Linked DNA regions of Homo sapiens: region 1 is linked to region 2. A link means that fine-mapping ties the variant in region 2 to the expression of a gene that starts in the linked region. Tissue or cell type: prefrontal cortex. Region 2 holds a variant in brackets; the other region holds the start of a gene. All regions are shown on one strand. Distances are between the middles of the regions.

What was found. PIP is the estimated chance that this variant, and not a neighbour inherited with it, causes the effect. A credible set is the group of variants that fine-mapping cannot tell apart.
Region 1: HNF4A starts here. The variant in region 2 is the best candidate, but not a certain one, in a credible set for the expression of HNF4A in prefrontal cortex (GTEx, PIP 0.59).

What each region holds. Positions count from the first base shown.
Region 1 is chr20:44,351,395-44,359,497 of GRCh38, forward strand. It overlaps HNF4A (hepatocyte nuclear factor 4 alpha), which reads left to right and starts at 4,305. Exons shown (of 10, transcript NM_175914.5): 1 at 4,305-4,459. The coding sequence starts at 4,411. It overlaps R3HDML-AS1 (R3HDML antisense RNA 1), which reads right to left and starts at 3,848. Exons shown (of 4, transcript NR_184036.1): 1 at 3,625-3,848; 2 at 474-556. HNF4A-AS1 (HNF4A antisense RNA 1) reads right to left here. Exons shown (of 3, transcript NR_172878.1): 3 at 5,350-8,103. RefSeq lists an enhancer at 1,637-2,136.
Region 2 is chr20:44,412,915-44,421,017 of GRCh38, forward strand. It overlaps HNF4A (hepatocyte nuclear factor 4 alpha), which reads left to right. Exons shown (of 10, transcript NM_175914.5): 4 at 780-886; 5 at 1,593-1,748; 6 at 5,511-5,598; 7 at 6,807-6,962. Among named protein-coding and RNA genes, the nearest start is that of MIR3646, 8.8 kb to the left of the region's middle. The variant T/G (reference allele first, on the strand shown) is at 4,491.

The sequences.
Region 1 (8,103 bases), 62 kb before region 2:
AGTTCGAGACCAGCCTGGCCAACATGGTGAAACTCTGTCTCTACTAAAAATACAAAAATTAGCCAGGAGTGGTGGCTCGCGCCTATAATCGCAGCTACTCGGGAGGCTGAGGCAGGAGAATCGCTTGAACCTAGGAGGCGGAGGTTGCAGTGAACAGAGATCCAGCGACTGCATTCCAGCCTGAGGACAGAGTGAGACTCTGTCTCTAAAAAAAAAAAAAAAAAGAAAGAAAGAAAGGAAACCCGCTTTCATTCGTCTCATAACAGTCAACCAGTTTCTGGGCAGTCTTTGAGGACTCGTGATTCGCTCCCTGAGTTGGGCACATTTCAGGCCCATGATTTTGAAAAACATTGAAATTGGCTTGTGGACATCCGCCCCCCCACCCCCACTGCATGGTACTGGAGCCACGACAGAGTCCAGGCCCCCCTTTTTACAGATGGGTACACTGAGGCTCAGAGCAGGGTGTAACTTACCCAGAGCTGCACAGCTTGTCTTTGATGGCCAAGGTTAGAGCTCAGTCTCTCACAGCTCCTTCCTGCTTCCTCGGCTCTCAGAACTGAGAAGTGAAAACCAAAGTTGGCCTGAGGGGACTCTCTCTGGGCCTTTTTTTCTCTATCTCTGCCTCGGTCTCTCTCTCTTTTGTCTACTGTCCGTTCTATCTCTGCCTGTTTTTGTTTTGGTCTCTGCATCTCTGATTCTTTTTCTCCCATATAATCTTACTCTCATTCCAATAAACCATTTCCCCTCTCCCCCCACCATCCCACCCAGGGATCATAGCACACAAAAGTCCTTTTGTCTCCAGAGATAGTAAAATCTCCTCCCTCAGACCTTGCCCTGCAGCTGGGGCCCACTCCCTGCCTGGCTGGAGAGCTTTTCCTTTGAAGACCCGGGATGGAAAACAGGCCCTTTTCCATGGAGTCCCTACGTTGTCCTGGATGGAATGAATTTTCTCATCCTGTGCATGTCACCCCCTCCCATTCCACCCCCAATAAAGTCTTTTGAGATCCAGTGTAGTGGCTCTTTCTGGTCCCTCCCTCTCTTGGCTCCCAAGAGGGTCAAAACACAAGGAATGGGAACTGGGTGGGGGAAGATGGGTGAGAGGAAAACCAGCTCAACTGGAAGACCAGGGGAAGGAACTAACAGCGCTTTGGGCCCCGCTCTGCAGAAGGCTAGATCAATGCACAAGTGCATGCACGTATACTATTGCTCCACTTTACAGATGAGATAAATGAGGCATGGGGTGAGTACTAGCTTCCAAATGCTGGAAATGAGTGAAATAAGAGAATTAAGAGGTTGGGCGTGGTGGCTCATGCCTGTAATCCCAGCACTTTGGGAGGCCAAGGCGGCAGATAGCTTGAGGCCAGGAGTTCAAGACCAGTCTGGGCAACACAGTGAAACCCTGTCTCTACTAAAATTACAAAAATTAGCCAAGCATGGTGGGGCACGCCTGTAATCCCAGCTACTCAGGAGGCTGAGACACCAGAATTGCTTGAACCCAGGAAGTGAAGGTTGCGGTGAGCCAAGACTGCACCACTGCACTCCAGCCTGGGTGACACAGCAAGTCTGTGTCTCAAAAAAAAAAAAAAAAAGAGAGAGAGAATTAAGGACACTGTTGTGAGTTCATTGTTCTTAGACTATATCTTTCCTACTTTATTTTTTGGAATGGGCTCTCGAAGGCAGTATCAGAAATGGAAAACCGAAGAGATCACGTGGAATTCCCACCTTACAGTGGCACTTTTGGCTTGTCTCTTCCCTGGCACAGTGGCTCATACCTGTAATCCCAGCACTTTGGGAGGCCAAGGAAGGTGGATCACCTGAGTTCAGGAGTTCCAGACCAGCCTGACCAACATGGTGAAACCCCGTCTCTACTAAAAATACAAAATTAGCCAGGCGTGGTGCTGTGTGCCTGTAATCCCAGCTACTTGGGAGGCTGAGGAAGGAGAATCGCTTGAACCCAGGAGGCGGAGGTTAAAGTGAGCCGAGATGGCGCCATTGCACTCCAGCCTGGACAACAAGAGCAAAACTCTGTCTCAGAAAAAAAAAAAAAAAAAAAAGAACAGATTTAATGAAACTTCTTGAATCCCAGTTTTTACATCTGTAAAATGGGAATATTGACAGTGACAATTCAATGACGTTAAGAATATACAATGCTGACAAACTAAAGAGTTCATAAATGCCAGTGGTTGTCATCCTCATTATCCTGGTGCTCAGGAAGGCAATGTGAGACCTGTTGAAATAGCACGGGCTTTGGGGTCAGATGATGCTGAATTCCAGTTCTGTGTTGGCTCCTTCGTAGTTATGTGACCTCATGACGCCACTTCATGCAGGGGGTTACGTACCACTTAAATCTCCAGAACATTTTGGGAAATTGACATAGGGTTAGCAAACCTCCCCCACCCCCATATAAAAATATTAATACTTTTTTTTTTTCTGAGATGGAGTCTGGCTCTGTCGCCAAGGCTGCAGTGCAGTAGTGCAATCTTGGCTCACTGCAACATTTGCCTCCTAGGTTGAAACGATTCTCCTCCTTCAGCCTCCCGAGTAGCTGAGATTACAGGTGCTCGCTGCCACACCCAGCTAATTTTTGTATTTTTAGTAGAGATGGGATTACACCGTGTTGGCCAGCCTGGTCTCAAACTCCTGACCTCAAGTGATCCACCTGCCTCAGCCTCCCAAACTGCTGGGATTACAGGCATGAGCCACTACACCCGACCAAGAATATTAATACTTTTTTTTAAAAAATATCGAAGTTATTTATTTATTTATTTATTTATTTATTTATTTATTTATTTTGAGATGGAGTCTCTCTCTGTTGCCCAGGCTGGAGTGCAGTGGCACGATCTTGGCTCACTGCAACCTCTGTCCCCCTGGTTCAAACGATTCTCTTGCCTCAGCCTCCCGTTTGCCACCATGCCCGGCTAATTTTTTTATTTTTGGTAGAGACGGGGTTTCACCATGTTGGTCAGGCTGGCCTCAAACTCCTGACCTCGTGATCGGTGCGCCTCGGCCTCCCAAAATGCTGGGGTTACAGGCGTGAGCCACTGCACCCGGCCCCAAAATCTAACGTTTGTTATCACTGTTGTTTTAGAAAAGAAAGGACATTTTAATGCAACCCATGCCCATCTGTAGGGGCTGAAGGTCCCTCTGAGGTGATTGATAAAGCTGAAAAAAGAGACTATGGGAAGAGAAGAGGAATATTATCAATTAGCTATTTTAGAAGCAGGGCAAACTATGAGCTAGGTATTCCTATAAGGAAATGAAATAATTTACTAAAAAACATACAGCAAGAAAATAATAGAGCTGGAGTTTTCTGATTTTTCTGAGTCCAGAATTTGTTTCACTGTTCTCATTTCAGCTCTCTCTAACAGGATGAATGACCTTGATTTCAGAATCCCCAAGCAGGTGGTGAGATCCAAAACTGAGACAAAAGAAACGGGGCTGTTCCAAAAAAAAAGCTAGGTGGCAGGTGTCTAACATGCCAGGGAGCTAAAACAGAGTGTGTGAGTTTCAGCAGCAGGTTGAATTTAGAATGGGGAAGGAGACCAGAGGAGACGCCAGACAGGATGACTTTGTCCCATTGGCCTGGAGGCAGCCCCATGTTTCTCCACCCCTCATATCACTCACCAGTTTGTAATAGTATCTTTGAATGACGATCTGATTAAGGTCCGTCTCCTCCATTAGTCCACAAGTTTCGGGGGTACATCTACTTTGCTCATTTCCATATCCCCAGAGTCTAGCACAAGGCCTGGTACATAGTAGGTGCTCAATAAATATGTTAGATGAAAGGAAGATAACACCTCTATGTACTAGCAGTGAGACTCCAGGCATGCAATTTCTCTCTGTCCTTCAGTCCCTTCATCTCAAGGTTTAATTTAAATATGGTAACGCCTGTATGCAACTCCCAGCATCCAGTAGGCACTCACTAAACACAGTTCTCCACCCTCCTTTTTTCCTCTGCCCCTCCCTCGGTTTTCCCACTACTTCCTGCATGGTGACACACCCATAGTTTGGAGCCATAAAACCCAACCCAGGTTGGACTCTCACCTCTCCAGCCCCTTCTGCTCCGGCCCTGTCCTCAAATTGGGGGGCTGATGTCCCCATACACCTGGCTCTGGGTTCCCCTAACCCCAGAGTGCAGGACTAGGACCCGAGTGGACCTCAGGTCTGGCCAGGTCGCCATTGCCATGGAGACAGCAACAGTCCCCAGCCGCGGGTTCCCTAAGTGACTGGTTACTCTTTAACGTATCCACCCACCTTGGGTGATTAGAAGAATCAATAAGATAACCGGGCGGTGGCAGCTGGCCGCACTCACCGCCTTCCTGGTGGACGGGCTCCTGGTGGCTGTGCTGCTGCTGTGAGCGGGCCCCTGCTCCTCCATGCCCCCAGCTCTCCGGCTGGGTGGGCTTGGCCATGGTCAGCGTGAACGCGCCCCTCGGGGCTCCAGTGGAGAGTTCTTACGGTAAGTGGGGCTGGGGGAAGACTGGACAGGGCGGGACTGCGGTCAGCTTTGGGAGGCCATGGGACACCTCCCCGTGTGTTTCTTACGGGCCCAAAGCTCCTCCTGGAGCTCCTCTGGAAGGGCAGGAAGCCCCACGGAGGCAATGTGACCGCTTCCCTAAGCTCTCAAGCCGGGGCATGGCCTGCTTGGTGCGAGAAGTGCTGGGAGGGGCCGAGAAGCCCTGGGGCAGAGGCTTGGCTCATTTTGTCTGTCCAGAGGCCTTCCTGGGAATGCATCTCAGGGGTCTTTCCAAAACCCCACAGAGGGTGGGGCTTGGAAGCACCGTCCTGTTTCGATGCGGGGCAAATTGAGGTCCACCAGGAGAGGCTTGCTGGGCCTAGGTCACGTTGCTGGTGCATTATCAAGCTGGGCGTGGGACCGGGCAGCTCGGTCGCTCCGCACCTCCGTTGGCTCTGGATAATGGGGAGGAGGTAGAAAGCGCCGCGCAGGGTGGAGCGTTGGAAAATGAGAATATCTTGTGCGGACGTGTGAAACTCAGATGCAGGGCTAGAAAGCATGTGTTACTGAGAGTGAAAGGCTCAGGCTCACTCCTTAGGGTGACCCCCACATTGGAAGCAACCCAATGTCCCTCAGCAGAGGGAAGACGGGTAAATAAAGCGTGAGACGTCTTTACAGTGGAATGCTATCCCATTGTTCAAGGAAACAACGCACATCTGTGTGTGACAGGGAAGAACCTCTCAGTTAAATTAAGTGAAAACGGTACACTGAAGAACTGTGTAGTTGCTGATAGCGAAACGGATATAGATGTATATATGTACACACGCGTATACGTGTACATTCCACGCATAGAAAATTCGTGGAATGACACAATAAAATTGGTGACAGGTTTGTTTCTGAGGAGGGAAATTCAAGAGAATGTTTTATCTTTTGGGGACACATTTTGGATTTTTTAAAAGTTGGGTGCCTTTTATAAACCTGTTCAAATCACACACCCGCACAGAACTTGGTCTCTGGAATCCAGCAGACCTCGGGGTCTAGTTGTGACTCTGTCACACGGCTCAACATTCACGTGCCTCTTGCTTTCTTTCTGAAGTGGAGACAGGACTAGGATGTGTCTTAAGATCATGGTGGATGCCGTGGGGAACAAGGATGTAAAGCCCTTGATACCACGTGCATTGCAAAGACACAATCAACATTTATGTCATCAATTGCTGAGGACAGAGGGCCAGGGAATGACAGAATCAGGGCCTGATCTCCTGACTCTAGTCAGGAAGAATCTTCTTTGCTTTGACCCCCATCAAACAGGAATATGTGATGCACTGGAAATGGCAGAGGCTGAAGAAACCAACAGCCTGGGAACCCATCCCACACACCAGCTGTGTGACCTTGGGCAAGACATTTCCCCTCTCTGAACCTATTTCCTCATCTGTAAAATGAAGATAACAACAGGACCTATCTCCCAGAGAGCGGGGAGATTAGAGGAGATAGCATAGAGGAGATTAAGGGTGAGGCCACCCTTAATCCACAATTTTAAGACCTGGAGTATAGATGCCAATGGATGACTTGGTTGAACCTGTGGCTAGGGGAAGACATTGTCTCTCAAAGGGGCCAGACAGCTTCTGGGGAAGGACAGCCCAGGTCATAAGGCTAAGCTAGGGGTGAACAGAAGGCCCCACAGTGTCTCTTAAAGGATGATACAATAATATAACCTGACAGCCTTTCACTGTCTCCCACGTCTCTGCACCTTGTAGGATGTCCTCATGTCTCTTCATCTCTGCTCCTGTGTCATACTCATTATATAGCAAACATTCAGCAATTATTAGAATGGTTGCTTCTATCGACAGGTAGGTGGGTGAATGGATGGATGAATGGGTTAGTGAATGTTCTACTATTATCTCTCAGACAGCTGTTTCATTTTCCAAACGGCTGTCTGAGATAAATAATATTGTAATCTCCAAGGACAGAAGAAAAAACTAAGGTTCAAGATTAAAAAAAAAACACAAACAAACAAAAAATGTCATCTGACTCGAGACTTGACACAATCCAGCTGTTGCTGGCCCTCTGCTCTAGGCCACAGATATGGCTGGACAGAGAAAGGAGAACTCCAGTGACCTTGCAGTACATCCACAAAAAATGAGCACTTTTGTCCTGGGGCAGTGGAACATTCACTGCAGTGTATGTGTGCCTATGTGTATGTGTGTGAGAGTGGCTGAAAGACCCTGATTTGATATTTTTGATAAAATACACCTGGGTTAGCATCCTAGATCTACCTTATTTAAAAAAAAAAAACAAAACAAAAAACTGTGTGGTCTTGTGAGTCAAATCATTACCCCTCTCTGAGCTTCACATGTTTTATCTGTAAAATGAGCTACTGAAGTCTGCTGGAAGGCTCCAGAAAAAAAAAAAAAAGAAAAGAAAAATTTGCTTTCTGAGAAAAGAAACAAGTGCTCCGAGGAAACAAAACCCCTCTCCCAGGCTGGGTGCAGTGGCTCACGCCTGTAATCCCAGCACTTTGGGAGGCTGAGGCGGGCAGATAACTTGAGATTAGGAGTTCGAGACCAGCCTGGCCAACATGGCAAAACCCCGTCTCTACTAAAAATACAAAAACTAGCCGGGTATGATGGCACACGCCTGTAATTCCAGCTACTTGGGAGGCTGAGGCATGAGACTCACTTGAACCTGGGAGGTAGAGGTTGCATTAAGCTGAGATCATGCCACTGCCACTCCAGCTTGGGCAGCAGAACAAGACTCTATCTCAAAAAAAACAAAACAAAACAAAAAAACAAAAAACAAACAAAAAATCTTCTTCTGGGGTTCTCTAATGGGGATAACATTAATCATCTCCTAAGATGACTATAGTAGAGGTGCATTGGTGGGTCAGGGACATGGCACATAGCAGAGCCTCAGTTAGAGGCAGAGGAAGACATGGCTGTTGTGAGGATCAAATGGAAGGATCCATGAGTGCTTAGAACAGTCCTGGGTCCAGAGCAAGCACGCAAGAAATCCTCGTTGTGGTTTCATGTTTTTGAGCTTTAGCAGGATTCTAAAGAGCTGCTCTTTGGTGTGGTGATGCTGGGTGGACTTGGCCCTCCCTGGACTTCCGGTGCTTCCACGGCACACTGGTTTTGGCTTTGCGGTTCTCGTCATCGCTCTGATCAGATAGTTGCTGGTGTGAATTGTGGTGTCTGGCTGCCCCACCAGACTATAAACTCCGTGAGTTCTGGGACCTGGGTAGTTTGTTCAGCCTTGTTTGTCTCACTATGTCTCACATGGTGACTGGCACAGAAGAAATGCTCAATAAGCATTTGTTGGATGAGTGAAATGATGGGCTTAAAACAGCGCTACAATGATGATCATCAATGTCAGCCAGATCCCACTCTCTTGCCTTCCTTCCTCTCTGCCCTCCTCACTGCGTTGTCTTTGGTCCTTGTATTTGCCCCATTATAACCCAAACTGGCTGTCCCAGCTTCAGCTGTCATGTCTGCACTTACGTGTCTGAAGCTGGAGGCAGGAGGAGAAGAGGTTTTCCTCAGTGCCCTTGTTTCTTTTATCCAAAAGCAAAACTTCCCCAGAAACCTCCTGGCAGACTCCCCTAGTTCAAGGAAAGCTGGGAAGACAAGTATGTAGTGGAAAGAGATGGGAAA
Region 2 (8,103 bases):
CCAGACAGGAAGCCGGGTCTGGTGCAGCTTCAACCTCCCTCCTTTCTGAATCAGCCAAGCCTCATTCCACAGTGAGGCCTCTTGGACTCCAAGGGCTATCCCATCCACTGTCGGGATGGTGGAAGGATCATCTTCTATCTCAGGCCAGGACTGACCCAGATGGGAGCAGGCAGTGGAGCCTGGGGCCCCGGTGGGCGTAGGCTCCAGATCCCTCAGTGCCTGGAACAGAGCAGCAGTGGGAGGGAGGGAGACAGCGCCTGGCCTTGCTGATGCTGAGGTTAGTCTGGAGTACATGCAGCTCCTGCTGATGGACAAAACCATCAAGGCAGTTGGAGCCCCCAGATCCTCTTGTTCAGGAATCCCCAGGCCATCTCCTTGTCACCCAGAGTAATTTGTTTTGCTTGCTTTACTCACTTTCATTTGGAAAGAAAGGGACCCTTTTGTAGACCAGAGCTTGAACATCTTTAAGCTAGTCAGATCCCCTCCTCAATGCTCAAGACCAATTTTAAACCCATAGCCGAGTCTTCACTGTCTTGCGCGCCCCTGCTGATGGGTGGATCACTCTTATAGCCTCTCCATTGTGTTGGGGGCAGTTGTGATATGTGGAAAGTTCTTCCACCAGCTGAGTTAGAGGCCATCTCCCCTCATTCCACATGCTGATGTGGGCCTGTTCTCTGGACACCCCCCACCTCCTGCTCCCACTCCTCATCAGTCACAGACACCCCCACCCCCTACTCCATCCCTGTTCTCCCTCCTCACCTCTCTGTGCCTCCTCACAGCCGTCCAGAATGAGCGGGACCGGATCAGCACTCGAAGGTCAAGCTATGAGGACAGCAGCCTGCCCTCCATCAATGCGCTCCTGCAGGCGGAGGTCCTGTCCCGACAGGTACCGGGGTGATCCTGCCACCCACCCAGGGATCCCCCACACTACAGAGGAGCTCACCTCCTCCACCTCCATTCTCCCCAGCCAGGCCCTGGAGCAGCTGACGGGAGGGGCCTCAGATATTACAGAAGGGACACTGAGTCCGGTTTCACATGGCCCAGTTTGCAGCAAGGGCAGGAATCGAACCTGGCGCCCTGGGGCACTTTCTAATTCATCCTACTGCCTGCATCCCACAGGCCAAGCAGAGTCTTCACCTTCACTGAGGGCCTGCGATCAGCTCAGCTCCGAGAGAACAGAGCAGTGGCTCAGTGGAGAGAGGTGGCAAAGTGGGGCCCAGCCCTTCCCTTGCTGAGTGACCTTGGGCAAGTCACAGCACCTCTCTGAGCCATGGTTGCCTCATTGTCAGAAAAGGATGATGATTTTTTGCCCTGCTTCTCCTCTAAGGCTGACAGACTCCTTGGGGCTCTAAAGCTGACAGAGGAGGGGGCAGGGGGCAGGTAACAGGTGAAGGCACAGAGGGAGCCCTTCTCCCTCATCCCTGCCTCCTCCCTCCCTCCGTTTTTACCCTGAGCTTCCTTCAGAGCTGGAGGGCACCCACTATCCAGCCCCCTCCCCACATCTGATTCCAGGGAGGGGGCTCTGTGCAGGGGACAGAGAGTGCGGGAGGGCCCGGACATCTCCAGCATTTTCTTCCCTGTATCTCTCGAAGATCACCTCCCCCGTCTCCGGGATCAACGGCGACATTCGGGCGAAGAAGATTGCCAGCATCGCAGATGTGTGTGAGTCCATGAAGGAGCAGCTGCTGGTTCTCGTTGAGTGGGCCAAGTACATCCCAGCTTTCTGCGAGCTCCCCCTGGACGACCAGGTGAGGATGGGCGTGGATGGTGGGCAGTAGTGGGCAGTGGGCGGGGCAGCCAGGGGGCTGCTGGCCCACCTGGGATATAGCCGTGGACTGGCTTGATTTTATTTTATTTAACAAAATATGTAGTGCACACACGTGTCTGAAACTTTAAATCACCTTACAAATATTAACTCAGTTAGCTCCTCCAACAACTCTATGAGGTAGGTACTAAGGTACTATTATTACTGCCATCTCATAGGTGAGGAGATTGGGGCACAGAGAGGTTAAGTAACCTGCTCAAGGTCACATAGCTACTATCCAGCATAGCTGGGATTAGAACCTGGCAGGAAGCTCCAAAGTCCAAGCTCCTGACCATTGTACCTGAGGCTCTCCCAGGGGGATGTTGACAGGGACCCTAGGACAGGGATCAGGAGATTTTGGCTTAAGCTATGGCTCTAAGACTGGTTGTCTGCCTAATCCTGGGCAAATGAGTTCCTCTCTCTGAGCCTCAGTGTTCTCTTATCTGTAAAGTGGAAATGATAATATCCACTTTAGAGTGTGGTTGGGAGGATTGAGGACATTGGTGTCTGAAAAGTACAAAAATCAGGTGATGGGGCAAGCTGCACAGTGGCCAGACCAGAGCTGGTCTCCCTAAACATTAGTTTCTTCCTTGTTTCCCACCAAAACGATTGAACTCAGCATCGTGTTTCCCACCAAAACAATTGAACTGAGCATCATATTTCCCACCGTACATTTTTTTGGAATACTGAAATGTCCCTAGGGGGAAGAAAGGGTTGAAGGAAGGTGGCGTGTGTCTGAGGACAGATGAATTTCGGAGATGCCACCTATGAAGCTCCTGCCCAGAGCACCCCTGGGCCTCCAAAGAGATGTTACCCATCTGGGGAAGAGGAGCTGGGCTGGGCCACCTTCTCAGCTTCGGAGACAGACTCTGGTGCATTCGCTTACCCGTTTCGCACCTTTGCATAAGACACTGACAATGCATGTGAGTCTGTGAAAGCTTCTGAGAAGTCTCGTCCAGGCAGTTGTTTGACTTTGCAGAGGCCGAGGCTTCTCAAACTCCTTCGGCAAGATTCTCCTGGAACACCTATTAATACTGCACATTGGGACACTGTGAAAACGCTGGTTTGGCTTGTCCCCAGCCTCATACAGGGGCTGGACCCGGGGCCCTCTTCCATGGTTCCTCCTTCCATTAGCAGAGTCGACAGGGCAAGGATCTTGGACAATCCGCCCCTACCCTCTCCCCTGTTCCTTGTGCTCTGGCCCCAGTCCCCTCTGCTGGAGTCTCTACATTAATGTTTAATCCCTCCTGTTCCTTCCCAGGGGCTTAGCAGGGCAACAAGATACCCCCAACCTGAGCAATTGTTAACCTCGATTTCCCACCCAAACCTCCCTGGCTGGGGCTCAGAGCATTCTCAGAGAGCAATGATGGGTGGCCAATAACACAGGACAATCATTAACACACCACCCCGACCTCCCGGCCCACCCCCCAGAACAGCTGCCATATCAGGGGGTTGAACCTGGGATCAGAAGGGTTCCCAGCTCCCCATTCCTGGTATATGAGGAGCCCAGCTTGCCCAATGCAGGTGGGGCATCCCTGGGAAAGTCGGGGGCATTGTCCTCCAAAGGGCTTCCCAATTTTGTTGACATTGCCCCAGAAACTAGATTCCCAGTTGGTGTGCTTCTTGGGCCTGGATACAATTGCAGAAAGAGATTGGGGCTTAGAGAGAGACAGAAATTTGCCTGAAGTCACAGAGCAAGTTAGCGACAGAACTGGGATTCAAATCCAGGTCTTCCGCTTCGCGATGTGAAGGCCACTGGAGTGACTGATGAAAGACTTGCACAGTGCCCAGTGCGCAGGAGGCGCTTGGCAATCAGCATCCTCGGCCTCCCTCCATACTGGTCATGGAAAGTGGATTTTCCCTCCCAGGCAGTTTCCTCTTTTTCTGTTTTCCTCACAGGTTTCTATCCATGGGGAATAGAAGGGGCAAGGACAAGTGGCTGCCCAGGAGCAGCTAGAGCTAGAGAGGAAGTCAAGATGTTTGCTCATTCATTCATTCATTTCCCCTTTCCTTCCTTCATTCAAATATTTATTGAAGGCTTATTTTGTGCCAAATATCTTCAGACAAATGCCTTCTTTCCTCTAACAACAATTTCACCTCCTTAGAGGCCTTCTCTGACCTCCCCATCTAACGTAGCCATTCTTGCCCCATTGCTCTCACCATCCTTTCCACTCCCCTCCCTCCCTCCTTCCCTTCCTCCCACCTTTTCTCCTTCCTTCTTTCCTTTATGCTGTGATCACCCTGTGTCCTCTGTACTTATTTGTTCTCTACTATCTGTTCATCCTCTCTCCTATAAATGTTAGTTCGATGAGATTAGAGACCTTGTCTCTCGTTTTTAAACATTGTGCCTCCATTGTCTTAAAAAGTGTCTGGCATTTAGTAGGCATTTAGGATTTGATAACTGAAAGAATGAACAATCAAATTAATGAACAAACAAAGGATTTTAACCTTCTAGTTTGGCTTGCTATGGAACCTCCAAACTCCCTAACCCAACCTTGAAGATGAGAAGATGAGATCCTTGAGGCTACCAGCCTGGTGCTGTTTTGTTTCAAGCCATCCTTTGGTCCTCAGGCAAGCACTAAAGCAGATGGCTCTCAGTGGGCTGGCTATGTCCTTCTGTGAGCTTGCTGGGCCCCTACCTATGACTCCAGTCTTAGAAGTCTTGCCTTGTACCCCCTGCAGAGAA[T/G]GGTTTCATCAAGCTGATTCTCTGCCAGGGGCCAGTGCTCATACATTTGCTCTGAGAAGGACCAGCCCTGAGACCTAACATCCACATCCAAGTTCTTGTAATGCCCTCTCAGAATCCTGGAGTCCTGCAATGTCGATCCCTGGAGGGATCTGCCAGACCAATGATTTCCCAAACAGAATTGCACTTCAGAGTCAACTATGGAGCTTTTTAAACACAGATCCCTGGGCCCACCCTAAACATACAAAATCAGGATCAGAATCTCAGGGCCTAAGAATCTGTATTTTCAGGCCGGGCGCAGTGGTTCACACCTGTAATCTCAGCACTTTGGGAGGCTGAGTTGGGCTGATCACCTGAGGTCAGGAGTTCGAGATCAGCCTGGCAATATGGTGAAACCCCGTCTCTACTAAAAATAAAATTAGCCAGGCATGGTGGTGCACGCCTGTAGTCTCAGCTACTCTGGAGGCTGAGGCACGAGAATCACTTGAACCTGGGAGGCGGAAGCTGCAGTGAGCCGAGATCATGCCACTGCACTCCAGCCTGGGTGACAGAGTGAGACTCTGTCTCAAAAAAAAAAAAAAAAATAGAATCTGTATTTTTACAAAGCACCCTTCATAATTCTCCATAGCTGGTCCATGGGTGGGAATTTGGGACCCACAGTTTTGGAACTTTTTGGGATCATAGACCTTTTTGAGAATCTCAAAAAAGAAAAAAAAAGCACACAGAATGTTGCTTACAGTTTCATCAGGCACACAGAAGAGGCCCAGCACGAAGCAGTTTCTTGCCCAAGGACACAGCAGTTCAAGGACAGAGTCAGCGCGAGGTCTCTCAGCTCTGAGCACATGTTCTTTCCCCTTCCAGGTTTCTAGTTTTATGGGTAGTAGTTTTATGATGCCCATTTCACAGTTCAGGCAGGTAGAGGCAGAGGGGAGCATTAAGCTGACTTGCCCAGCGTCACTGAGTTGGCTACGGGCAGCCTTCCCAAGGGTACAGATGGCAAACACTGTTCCTTCTCTCTTTCAGGTGGCCCTGCTCAGAGCCCATGCTGGCGAGCACCTGCTGCTCGGAGCCACCAAGAGATCCATGGTGTTCAAGGACGTGCTGCTCCTAGGTGAGGCGGCTGCCTGCCCTGGCCAGGGCTCCAGGGAGGGTATGCCTAGCATGGCACTCACCCAGGCAAGGAGATTCACATGGTGGCATGCAAGGGTGAGGGAGACTAGTCAGGAGTGGCCCTGTCCTCAGGCTTGCATTAGAGGGCTCCAGGACTCAGTTTTCAACTGGGTACCCCACTCAGATGCAAGGAAATGTGGATGCAAGTCACCAAATTCCCAGCATTGAAGTCAGAGCACGATCAGGGTTATCCCTGGAATTACCTGTGCATCCTTTTTTCTTTTGACAGAGTCTTGCTCTGTCACTCAGGCTGGAGTGCAATGATGTGATCTCGGCTCACTTCAGCCTCCACCCGCCACGTTCAAGCAATTCTCCTGCCTCACCCTCCAGAGTTGCTGGGACCACAGGCGTGCACCACCACACCCAGCTAATTTTTGTATTTTTAGTAGAGACAGGGTTTCACCATGTTGACCAGGCTGGTCTCAAACTCCTGGCCTCAAATAATCCACCCGCCTCAGTCTCCCAAAGTGCTGGGATTACAGGTGTGAGCCACCGCGCCTGGCCTACCTGTGCATTCTGATGTTCTTTCTGGAGTAGGAGCAAGAGGTGGTTAAGAATGGCACAAAGCCCCAGCCCGCGTCACCTGTGCCTTCATGGCATAGTTATTATTTTAAACGCTTGTACAGCACACACTGTGTGCCAGGGACTGTGCTCACTGCTTTGCAAACACTACCTATTTTAATATAACAATGCTATGAGGGAAGCTCGATTATTTATCCTCATCTTATAGATAAGAAAACTGAGGCACAGAGAGGTTAAGTAACTTATCCAACTATAACCAGCTATCAGGGGCAGAGCCATTTAAGCAGGGCAGTGCAGTTCCAGAATCTGGTCCTTTAACCTTGATGCTTTGGTGCCTATCAGGTGACCTTTGAATGTCATCGATCTTGTGAGTCATGTTGGTAAATGGAGCTTGGGTCATGTGAAAGAGGTCCTAGAAAGCCAAGTTCCAAGCTCAGCCGGATGACTCAAGGCAGCTTATCTTCTGAATCTGGGCCTCAGCTTCCTTACCTGTGAAATGGGAGTCACCATCCCTGCAGGTCCTCCTCCCACAGGCACCAGCTATCTTGCCAACTTAAAAGCCAAAACTAGAGGAGAGGGGTCAACCCAAGGTGACTTCCCATCCTCCCTCCCTCCCAACCCTTCCAGGCAATGACTACATTGTCCCTCGGCACTGCCCGGAGCTGGCGGAGATGAGCCGGGTGTCCATACGCATCCTTGACGAGCTGGTGCTGCCCTTCCAGGAGCTGCAGATCGATGACAATGAGTATGCCTACCTCAAAGCCATCATCTTCTTTGACCCAGGTACAGTGCACACCTCCTAAGCCATCCCTGACTCTCTCTCCAGAACGCTCTGCCAGACTTCTCCTATTGGGTTCTGTACACTGAGTTCACAGCCTCATCTCATGTTAACGACAGCCAGGAGAGGCCGTTTTCATTTAACAGATGAGGCAAGTCAAGATTTGAAGAGACAATATGGCCGGGCGCAGTGGCTCACACCTGTAATCCCAGCACTTTGGGAGGCTGAGGCGGGCGGATCACCTGAGGTCAGGGGTTCAAGATGAGCCTGGCTAACATGGAGAAACCCCATCTCTACTAAAAATACAAAAATTAGCCAGGCATGGTGGTGCACGCCTGTAATCCCAGCTATTCGGGAGGCTGAGGCAGGAGAATTGCTTGAACCTGGGAGGCGGAGGTTGCAGTGAGCCAAGATCCCGCCACTGCATTCCAGCCTGGGTGACTCCATCTCAAAAAAACAAAAACAAAGGGAGGATATGACTTGACAGGGCACCCTGACTCCAAAGGCCTGGGCTTTCCCTTCTTTTACTTCTTCCCTCCATCCTTCTTTCTCTTTACTTCCCATCTTCCTCTTTTCTTTCATATTTGCTTCTTTTCCTCAAAAAAATTTATCAAAATAATATCTAGAACCGGATGTGGTGGCTCACATCTGTAATCCCAGCACTTTGGGAGGCAGAGGCAGGAGGATCACTTCAGGCCAGGAGTTCGAGGCCAGCCTGGCCAACATAACAAGACCTCGTCTCTATAGAAACTAAAAAAAATTAGCCAGGGATAGTGGTGAGCACCTGCAGTCCCAGCTACTCGGGAAGCCAAGGTGAGCACCTGCAGTCCCAGCTACTCAGGAGGCCAAGGTGGGAGGATCTCTTGAGCCCAGGAGGTGGAGGCTGCTGTGAGATGTGATTGCACCACTGCACTCCAGTCTGGGTGACAAAGCAAGACCTCATCTAAAAAATAATAATAAATAAATAAATAAATCTACACATACTTAAAATGCAAATACTTCTCCCCATCCTACTTTTCCAGCTCTAAGTCTACTCCCCAAGAGAAGCATGTCTGATTATTTTAATTGTTTCTTCTGGCAGTTTCCTCAACAATTCTAAATGAAAGACAAAGCCTTATATTTGTTGATGCATCCATTTTGGATCAT